2 linked regions of the Homo sapiens genome follow. The protein of the gene in region 1 interacts with the protein of each later gene in a biochemical or structural test. Each region holds a gene or a part of one and is shown on either strand. Other genes may lie near its edges.

Region 1 (7,304 bases):
CTTGTGGCTTCTTTGAGATTCTGAATTCTCTTGGGAAAAACAACTGTGATTTCACTTATATTATTTCTTGATGTATTAATGTCCAACTTGCAATCAGTTCTAGCCATATTAATAATCTCCACCTATGATGTATTTGTTCTTGCCTCTCTACCTTTCTATATGCCATTCATCTCATCTGTAATTTCTTTCCCTTAATTTATGTTTCAGTTTTCCCTTCTGCAACTCAACAACAACAAAATCAAACAAAACAAGAAAATTCCAGTCTTATCATCCCCTTGATAACCTGAGGCATTCCACTCATTCATCTGTATCCCCCGTGTGTCCCATACACATTGACATTCTGTGGTCATTTGCTCAACAAATGTTCAGACATCTTCTCATGTGTTTTCATGGAGTGTCTTCATCTCTAGTTGCATATTAAACTCACTTAGGGAGTTCATAAAAAATATGATGGATCTCCAGACCAAATAAACAGAATCGCTGAAGGGTGGGGCCATGCTGGGGAGGTAAATGTTTAACTACTTGCTCCTCAGGAAAAAAAAAAGTCCTGATTTGTAGTATTTGTCACTTTCCATGGTGTAAATACTCCCACCATAGTGGATTTCAAGCTACCTACTTGACATCACTGAACACAGAATTCAGAAGAGATGTTCACTATTTGCTCACAAGGGCTGGTTCCAGCATACCACTGGATAGGACACAGGCATATACATATAAATACATTTCTCAGATGCAGTGACTGTTTTTCTTTGTTTGACTCATCTTCCCTATGACACTAAGCACAAGGGCTGAATCAATATTAACAAACCACATAAAGTGATTAATCTATAGTTCACAGCCTGTGATGCAAATGTGAACTCTGCCTCATCCTTTGACTCAAATGCACAGAATTATCAATTTACTTTCTCTTGATTTTTGTACAGTTAAAGGATGAGAGGCTAAATATATTTGGGTTCTCCTAATGAAAATGTCAAGTTTTTGTTTATATGTATATATTTTTAAATATTGCTTAAAGACGCACAAACACTGGGTTTTTTTTAGCACCCCTCTCCCACTCTTAGCTTTTAGGTATGGGAGCAGCAATGAAAATGATTTTTTTCATGGTAACTCTGTTTTTATTCCACTTAAAGCTCATATGTAATTGTTTGAAGACACTTTCCTTGGATCCTTTCATGTGTTTGGAAGTTTCAATTCTCTTCTAAGTGGCATTTTTAGAGAACAGTAGATATATAAGATTGCCCGGGTGGTCCTTCCCAGGCAAGGCAACATTGACCTAAGAAAACAGGATGCAAGGTAGATTTGTAAAGACTTCTAGGGAAAAAAATTTCATGGATACTTAAAATTACATGAAAGAGTTCTACTTAATTTGATAGCTCATGACACTGCTTACTACTTATTTTAGCAGGTTCAGCATGATACCACCTGGATCTCCAATGACTATTTACATACAGAAGGGAAGAGAACAGCAGGACGTTCTTATACTTTAATACTGGCTCACATTATTAGCAATCCTGGTTAATTTATACTTCAGTTTTGTTTTCTTCAAGATATGCTTCCTCAATAAATATGTTTTTTTAATGTTTCTATGTACAGATTATAGTGAGGACAAGGTGCTCCAGGAATATGGGGCAAGAGACGTAGAGCTATTTTCCAATTTGATGTTGCCAAAAACTTCAGAGACTGTGATTCAGTTATTTAAATAAGATCTAAGAATGCATCAGTCTGCACGTTAGTATAACTTAATTTCCAAGTATTCTAGCATTCTTTGGAGTGTTTTGGGATCATCAAATATTATGAAATTGTTCAATGAAGAAATATGTTTCCAGTCATGAATCATTAAATATAAGTCTGGTGTCAACAGAATATAGACAGTCAGTTGGAAGGACAAAATTTGATGTTTAAGAATTGGTAAAATATAGGATAAGATTAAATATTTGTTTTACATATGAGGCAATGTAATAAAATAGTTTTATTTTTAAAAGAATTTATATTTGCTTTGTACACTTAAGACCTTACATTTTGGGAGGTTTTCATGGTACGATTGCAGACTATATATTCCTAACTTTGAAGGCTACAACACATTTTCAGGAATACTGCAGGACGATAACCAAAAGTAAGAAAATGCGAAATAAGGTTTAGTTTGGGGACATTTTTCAGTACATATTTCACTTTTTATATTAATTGGGAGAAAAAAATTAATGACTATGTCTTACCTGAGCAGGCTTCTTCTGAACAACTTGTTGTGGCTAAGGAGGAAAAGAAAAAGATATATTTTAAAAGAAAATATACATTATAGAAAAAATTAGGTGTACATATTTTAAATACAGATACTTGTCTGCAAAGGAAAGAGGAAAGTATAAAGTTCAACTGGTATATCCAATGTTAAAAGTGTTTATACTTGGCCAGGCATGGTGGCTCACGCTTATAATCCCAGCGCTTTGGGAGGCAGAGGCGGACGGATGGCTTGAGCCCAGGAGTTGTAGACCAGGCTGGGCAACATGGTGAAACCCTCTCTCTACAAACATACAAAAATTAACAGGGTGTGGTGGCGTTGCAACTGTAGTCCCAGCTACTCAGAGGCCTAAATGGAAGGATCACCTGGGCCAAGAAAGGTCAAGGCTGCAGTGAGCCGTGATCATGCCACTGCACTCCAGCCTGGGTGACAGAGCAACACCCTATCTCAAAAAAAACAAAAATGTCTATTCATGATCTCTCTATATTAAGGAAATACAACATAGGTTATCTCAGTGAAAACAATTCCAATTCCCAATTAAATTCTGGCATACAAGCCAACTAGCTTGAAAGAAACTTAACTGTTTGATTCACTTTGTTTTTAGCCTATATATCACAAAACTGAGGAGTGAAGGTACCTAATTTGTTAATATTTTATTTTTTTAAAACACCTTCACTGAGACATAATTTACATACCACATAATTCACTCATTTAAAGTATATTTTAGTATATTCAGAGGGTTGTGCAACCATCACCACAGTCTAATTTAGAACACTTTCATCTCCTCTAAAAGAAATCTTGTACCCATTAGTGGTTACTCCCCACTACCCTCCACGTCCCTAGCCACCTCCCATGCCTAAGTGACCATGAATCTACTTTCTGTCTCTATGAATTTACCTATCCTGACATTTCATGTAAGTGGAATCATACTATATATGTAGAGTCTTTTGTGTGTGGCTTCTTTCACTGGCCTAGGGTTTTCTAGGGTCATCCATGTGGTAGCATCAGCAGTTCATTCCTTTTCATGCTAAATAATTTTCCCTTGTATGGGTATACCACATTTTACCTATCCATTCATTAGTTGGTGGACATCTGGGGTGTTTCCACCCTTTGGCTATTATGAATAATGCTACTATGAACATTTATATACACGTTTTCGTGCGAACATGTTTTCATTCTTGGGTATGTACCTGGGAGTGGAATCGCTGGTTCATATTGTAATTCTTTGTTTCACTTTTTGAGGAGCTGCCAGACAGCTTTCTAAAGCAGCTGTACCATTTTGCAGTCCGTCCCACCAGCAATGAATCTGGAGTTCCAATTGCTCCGTATACATGCCAATGCTTGTTATTGCCTGTCTTTTTGCTTGTAGACATCCAAGTGGATGTGAAGTTAAACATCATTGCTGTTTCAATTTGAACTTCTCTCACAACTAATGATGTTGAGCATCTTTTCATGTGCTTATTGGCCATTTATATGTCTCCTGGGAAGAAATGTTTATTTAAATCCTTTGCCCATTTAAAAAAAATTTGCTATCTCTTCATAACAAAGTTGTAAGAGTTCTTTTAATGTTTTGCATTCAAGTCCCTTATGATTTGCAAATAATTCTGTGAGTTTGTTCAGTTTCTTCGTGGTATCATGGGAAGAATATTGTGTTATATTGTGTTATATCTGTATCTATTGTATGTGTAGAGCAAAACTCTCCTCTTTTGAGTGAAACATCCGAGGGAATGTTTTTCTGCCTGCCTAACTTTCCAATCGAGTATTAGAGAATACTTCTTATTTCTTTGGCATTATAAAAGATGGATTTGAAGCCTGAGCTTTTCGATGGATTATTTGCTTCCAGTCCTCACTCTCATGTCTGAATATAGGCATGTATTATTCTATCTACACATCGCTGAGATTTGTGAGTACACCTGAGGTACTCTGATGTGGATAGCGACATGCTTTCTTGCACCAGTTCTCCCAAATAACAGCACTTAGGATACGTTCACTATTCACTAGCCCCTGTTCATTCATTCTGAGAGCCCCTTCCTCTCAGAGTTCCTCTCAGTGGTACAGTGGTTTATTGCTGGTACATTAAAAATTCCATATAAAAATCATTAGAGCTTTTTTTTTTTAGATGGACAGAATAAAAATAAAATAAATGGCAAGGTACTTTTGCTCAAAGGAAAAGACGTTCTTCCATTTGACTTTAAATCACAGTAAAGATGACGTCATCACAAAAGCCCAAGTTTTGAGATGATGTTTTCTCCAGGGAAAATCGAACCAAGAACGATGAGGACTTCTTGCCTCTTAGGACACAAAAGCGTGGGCTAATAGAGGATTCATTTCCAAAGGGTCATTTGGAAGAAGAGAGCACTCATCTTCCTCCCATTTTTCCCTGTTGATTACACCTGTACACATGTTTACTCCCAAACCGTTTCAAATCCACATACATTCTTGCAGGCTGACTGGTTCCTACTGCTCAGAAATCCCCCTCCTTTTTTGGCAGAGGCTCCCGCATTCATGTGACTCCTGCACACTGCAGCTCAATGAAATCCTCTGAAAGAGCTGCCAGCTCACCCAATTTTCCATGAATTAGGTCCTGACACTTCAATGAGGGGAAAGACAATGTCTGAATCTCTGCCAGCCCTGGCTCCCGGCCTAGTCCGTGTCACGGAACTTCTACCAGCTACCCTCAGACACAGCACTTCATACTTTTCAGACCACCAAACAAACAGACCCTTGAATACTTTCAATGTTGGTTGGGGTTATGGCTGCCAGGATGTTTTCCCAGCCTCTGGCACCCAATGGCTCCAGACTGTGCCGAGAAAGTTTTTGTTGTTGTTATTTTGTTTTGTTTTTATTTTTATGAATGGCTTTGGTAGAAAACGCAGACTGAAGCATAATACTACCACCATTCATAAAAAGGGAAAGGAAACAAACTGCTGTCTGGAAAGCTTTTTGGACGCCAAACAAACTGTAAGTCTCTTATCTTCCTTGGGGCATCTCTCGGCTCAGAACTAAGTGTTGATTCTTAGAAACCAGTTGCTCCTCGGGGTTCTTGGCATTAAAAACACGACTGGCCACTAGAGTTTTATAAGACCTGAATAACATCAATGATACATATTAGTCTTCTGTGTTGTTAACAGTAAATTTTCATGCACCTTAATAAATGAGTAATATTTTGCACATGCATTTCCTATATGAAAGCTAGAATCCTTTATATTTTTAACATCTGCCCCTTTGTTACTGGGAGGGTCCAGGCCTTACTGTTTTCATTTTCTCACAGGGAAACCAAGGCATAGGGAATTTAAATAATCGTCTGAGATCTTTTTCTAAAACCAAAACAACCCGAGTCTACTGATTCTCTTAATCCCTGATATAATGCTCTGAAGAAACCCAGTCTGTTCCTTGAAAAAAAGAAAAAAGAAAAAAGTCAAATCGAGATCCAATCCAGGAGAAGCTGTACTTCCCGGCTTTGATTTTCATCTCCAGATTGTTCAGCAGGGCCTAGTTCTGATTCCTCCAGGTTGCTGATGAAAAGTGAATCGCAGGGGACAAGAGTCAGACCTGCAAAGTCCAGCTGCCTCACCTCACTTGGAGATTCTTCCTTCATTATCAGTTGTGGAGGGGCTGAGTCCCTCTTAAAGGTGTGTACATCATAATGACTGTTCAGTGAACAGATAGCAAAGCCTTTCAAGTTGTTTAGACAAATCTGATGATCCAATTCTAAGTGTGCACATAGGGAGTTTATACAGTTTAGGCACTTGGTCAACTTGGCATGCAAACCCTTCAATGCACTGAGATTTTGAGTTCATTATGTTGAGACTATTGCACCTTTCAAAAAGCTTGTAATGAAAATCCTCATTCCATGGTTGCATTGAAACTTCTAAAATACAATGGGGTGAAAGAGAGCTTCCTCCCAGAACAAAACATCAATAGCAGCATTGACAAAATCACCAAAGGACTTTGAAGAAATTTTTTGGATTAACAGATGTTAAAACGAAACTGTGGCCGGGTGTGGTGGCTCATGCCGGTAATCTCAGCACTTTGAGAGGATTGTTTGAGCTCACGAGTTCGAGACCAGCTTGGGCAACCTAGCAAGACTTCATCTCTATTAAAAATAATTAGCCAGGTATAGTGGCGCATGCCTGTACTCCCAGCTACTCGGGAGACTGAGGTGGGAGGATTGCTTGAGCCTAGGAGGTTATGGCTGCAGTAAGCTATGATCACACCATTGCACTCCCGCCTGGGTGACGGAGCAAGACTCTGCCTCAAAAAAAAAAAAAAGTGGTGAGAATTCAAAGACCCCATGAGTTGAACATACCACGTGAAGCTTAAAAGGGCTCTTTCTAACCACATGGATTTCAGTGAGTAGTTCTCTGCAGTCTAGCCCTTAGAATGGACTAGCTCAGCCACAATTGAAAGTATAATGCTTAAGCAAATAAATATCATTGTTAAAGTATATACAAATAGCTTAGGGTACAACATGCTAAGAAACTGTAGAAGATAAGCAAAAGGAAAGGACATATTTTTGGATTTCTGAGGTCATACAGCAAATGAACATTTCTCCAAATGGAAGAAAAAAAGTTACTGAATTTTTAAAATCCACAGAGTATTTGGATTTTTAAGATTTTGTAGAGAGACACTTGTGTAGGAAATGGTCTGCCATTCCACCTATTTCAGAATAATTAAGAAGTTCCTCAGCCCTCCTAAGAATACAATCTATGGTTCCAGGAAGTCTAGGTATTTTAAAGCTGATACTCAGACAGCTAAGCCACTCCTTCTGGTAGGTATTGAAAGAAAATCCTTGCTAACAAAGGACCCAGACATTAGTAGTTCATTTTAGTACTAATCTAAACATTAAATAAAAAGAGGCTTGAATTGAGCTTACAAACTTAATTTTTAAAAAAAAATTAGGCACAATGTATGGTAAAGCAAACATGATTATTATGTAAAGGGTCTCAAGTTGACCTTAGAAAGAAAGAAGCCCTTCACATGGCTGTCTGTGCAGATGAGTCTCTGGGTTTAATGTAAGCAGCAGAATTTTAATATAATTAGATCCTTTGCTTCTTGCCAGGCAGTAGTA
Region 2 (2,956 bases), on another chromosome or scaffold:
ATTCCCATGGAGACCCCCAGGGTAAGGGGTGGGAGACCTGCCTGAGCCGGTTCTGGTGCCCCAGACCTGTCCCAAAACCGTCCCAGAAGCCCCTGCCAGCCCCCTAGGAGGGAGGTAGACGGTCAGCCACATCCCGGTGCGGCTGTGTTCTTGTCCTCGCCCCTAGAAATTAGGTCGCCTAGACTCTGCCTCCCTGAGCAGAATCCCTTCAGGGAAAGCAAGGCAGCGCAGGTAGGACCAGCCACACTCCCTACCCAGCATCTCCTGCTGCTGCTCCACCTGCTCACCCTGCGGTGGAGGCCGAGGCTCCCAGATCTCCCTGTCCCCGTCCCTGGTCCTCCCACCCACCCACAGGCCTCAGGCAGCGCAGCTGGGGGCACAGCTCCAGCTGGGCAGGGCAGGAGGCTGTTGGTCAACATGCCAATGACACCCACACAGCACCAAGGCGCCGCCAGGGCTGGCAGAAGCCCCTGGGTGGGGCGGCCAGGCACGTGAGTCTAGGAGTGGCCTGGGAGGCAGGTGCTGCTGCGGGGGCCTGGGCAAAGGTGGTGGCACCAGCCGCGGAGGCTGCCACTGCCACAACATCACAAGCTGCAGGTTCTCATGTTTTATTGTAAAGCAACAAGAAACTCTTATGTACACTGTCCGTCTTGGGGCGCCTCCATCCTGTGCCATCTTCTCTACCAGGCCAGGCAGGCATGGGTGGGGCGCTCAGAGTCCTCTGCCCTGTCCCTGCCCGGCCAGGACCCCGCAGACCTCATGCTAGACGATGACCGTCTGCACCTCCAGCTGGCCCTCCGGCGAGGCGATGACCAGCTCGCCTGCATGCTCCAGGATCTCGATGTCCTCTGATGACACCATGGTCACAGTGGCCTGTTCAGTGCCACTTGTCCCTGCCCGGGCGGCAAGCACAGTGCCCTCGCTGATGGCCGAGGCCAGCGTCATGGCCACCTGCTCTGTCAGGCTCTCGGGGGTGGCGATGGTGATGGTGTCGGCGGCAGCCGCCTCTGGGCCCAGCGCCGTCTCCTCGTCCATGGTGACGTTCTGCACGATGATCTGGTGGCCGGCGCTAGCCTGGTGCACGATCTGCTGCACCACCTTCATGATGTGGCTGTCCACCTGCAGGGCCACGGCTCAGCAAGAGCGGCTGTGCCAGGGAGCCTCCCCGCCCCCGCCTGCCCTACCCCTCACCTCTGTCTGGGTGCCCTCGATGATCTCCGTGGCCTCACTGGTCTCCGCATCGTCCGCAGTGGCCTGGGCAGATGGGCAGAAGGACAGAGGTCAGCCTTGGCTGCCCCTGGGTCCCAGCACGGCCCCAGGGCCCCACACCCACCTCGATGATATACTCCTGGGTGTCAGCTACCACGGACGAGAACTCCACCAACACTGTGTGCGGGTCTTCCGTGAGGACGGTGGTGGCTGCCGCGGGGCTGTCCTCAGACACCAGCAACTCCTCCACCTCCAGCAGGCAGCCCCCTGTGGGTGGGGACTCGGTCAGGGCTAGGCAAGCCCCGGCCCCCTCCCCTCCCCCTCCCACCTCCACCGGCCCAGACCTTTGGTGCGCAGGTGCCGGTTCAGCGTGCCGTGCTCGGCGAAGCCACGGCCGCACTTGTAGCACTTGAACGGCTTCTCGCCTGTGTGGTGTCGCACGTGCCGCACCAGTGAGCCCTTCTCTCGGAAGCCACGGCTGCAGAACTGGCACACGTGCGGCTTCTCCTCCAGGTGTGTCCTGAAGTGCACCTGCTGTGCGTTCTGTGGAGACACCTGTCAGTGCCAGCCTGGCCTTGGCCACAACAGACTACAGCTCTCCCCTCCCGCCTGTGGCCCAAGGGAGGGGCTGGGTCAAGACTGAGCATGGTGGAGGCAGGGAAGGGGGTGCACCTGGGCCACGGCCAGGGAGCAGGATGGGGGGATCAGGCGCCAGGGTCCTGCGGCCAGAGACCCACCTTAGTCTTGTAGCGCTTGCCACACTTGGGACAAGGGTAGGGCCGCTCGTCTGAGTGGACGCGCCGGTGGCCACGCACATGGGCAATGGTCTTGTAGAGCTTCCCGCAGTCGCCACAGCGGAAGCGGCGCTCACGCACGTGCACCTCCTGGTGCTTCTTGAGCAGGTAGGCCTTGGGGAAGGCCTTGCCACACTGCGCGCAGGCGAACGGCCTCGGCCCTGCAGCCACACACAGCATCAGGCCAAGCCCATCACCCGCGGGCCCGCCAGGCCGCCTGCCACCTGCCCACAGATCCCCTGGCTCCCTGCTGTCTATGGACCCACCCTGGACACCCAGAAGCACCCCGGCCACCTATAGCCCATCCACTGCCATGGGCCACACACCCACCCATCACCTACCGGTGTGGCCCCTCTTGTGGGCCTCCAGGGTGGCTGCTGTCGGGAAGGTCTCACTGCACTGAGGACATGGGTGGGTCCTGGGCACCGCTGAGGCCTCGCTGGCCACCTGCTGGGGAACCACAGGAAGGTCTCCAGCACCCGGGGCAGGCTGTGCCCTGGCAGTACCAAGAACACAACCATGGGCCCCACCCTGGCAGGCTCCCTTGTGGCCCCAGGGAAGGCAGTAAACAGATCAATGGACAAAGTCACTGCAGAAAGCCACTTCAGGGAGGCGAAGGCCAGCGTGGGGACAGCCCCTGGGATCCAGCCCTGGGAGGAGCCCGCAGGTGGTGCTGGCACCTACTGTCTCCAGCGGCTGCACTTCCAGTACCGGCAGCTGCGGGGCTGCCACTGCCAGGGGCTGGGGACTGGACCCGGCAGCAGGAGCTGGCTCCAGGGCACCCTCCTCCCCAGCAGCGCGCTCAAGGACGATGCCGGAGTTCTGCATGGCCTGGTGCAGCAGGTTCTCACGGCTGCCCTCGCTGGAGCAGGGGAGCTCCTGGGAGACGGGGGGCTGCAGGGGAGGCAGAGAGAGGAGGCTGGCCAGGCAGCCTGGCATCCAGCACCCACCCC

Evidence for each region.
Region 2: the proteins of HMGA2 (region 1) and E4F1 form a complex in vitro, tested with the Homo sapiens proteins (one study listed by BioGRID).

The regions. Positions count from the first base shown.
Region 1 is NC_000012.12:65,946,325-65,953,628, reverse strand, and holds part of HMGA2 (high mobility group protein HMGI-C), read right to left. Parts: exon of another isoform or gene 5,505-7,304; intron 5,195-5,504; exon of another isoform or gene 4,922-5,194; intron 2,247-4,921; coding exon 2,214-2,246; intron 1,274-2,213; coding exon of another isoform or gene 1,199-1,273; exon of another isoform or gene 1,093-1,198; intron 1-1,092.
Region 2 is NC_000016.10:2,233,379-2,236,334, reverse strand, and holds the end of E4F1 (transcription factor E4F1), read right to left. Parts: intron 2,898-2,956; coding exon 2,688-2,897; coding exon of another isoform or gene 2,684-2,687; intron 2,454-2,683; coding exon 2,345-2,453; intron 2,165-2,344; coding exon 1,947-2,164; intron 1,753-1,946; coding exon 1,554-1,752; intron 1,477-1,553; coding exon 1,334-1,476; intron 1,255-1,333; coding exon 1,192-1,254; intron 1,120-1,191; coding exon 763-1,119; 3' UTR 593-762; downstream 1-592. UniProt on the Homo sapiens protein: May function as a transcriptional repressor. May also function as a ubiquitin ligase mediating ubiquitination of chromatin-associated TP53. Functions in cell survival and proliferation through control of the cell cycle.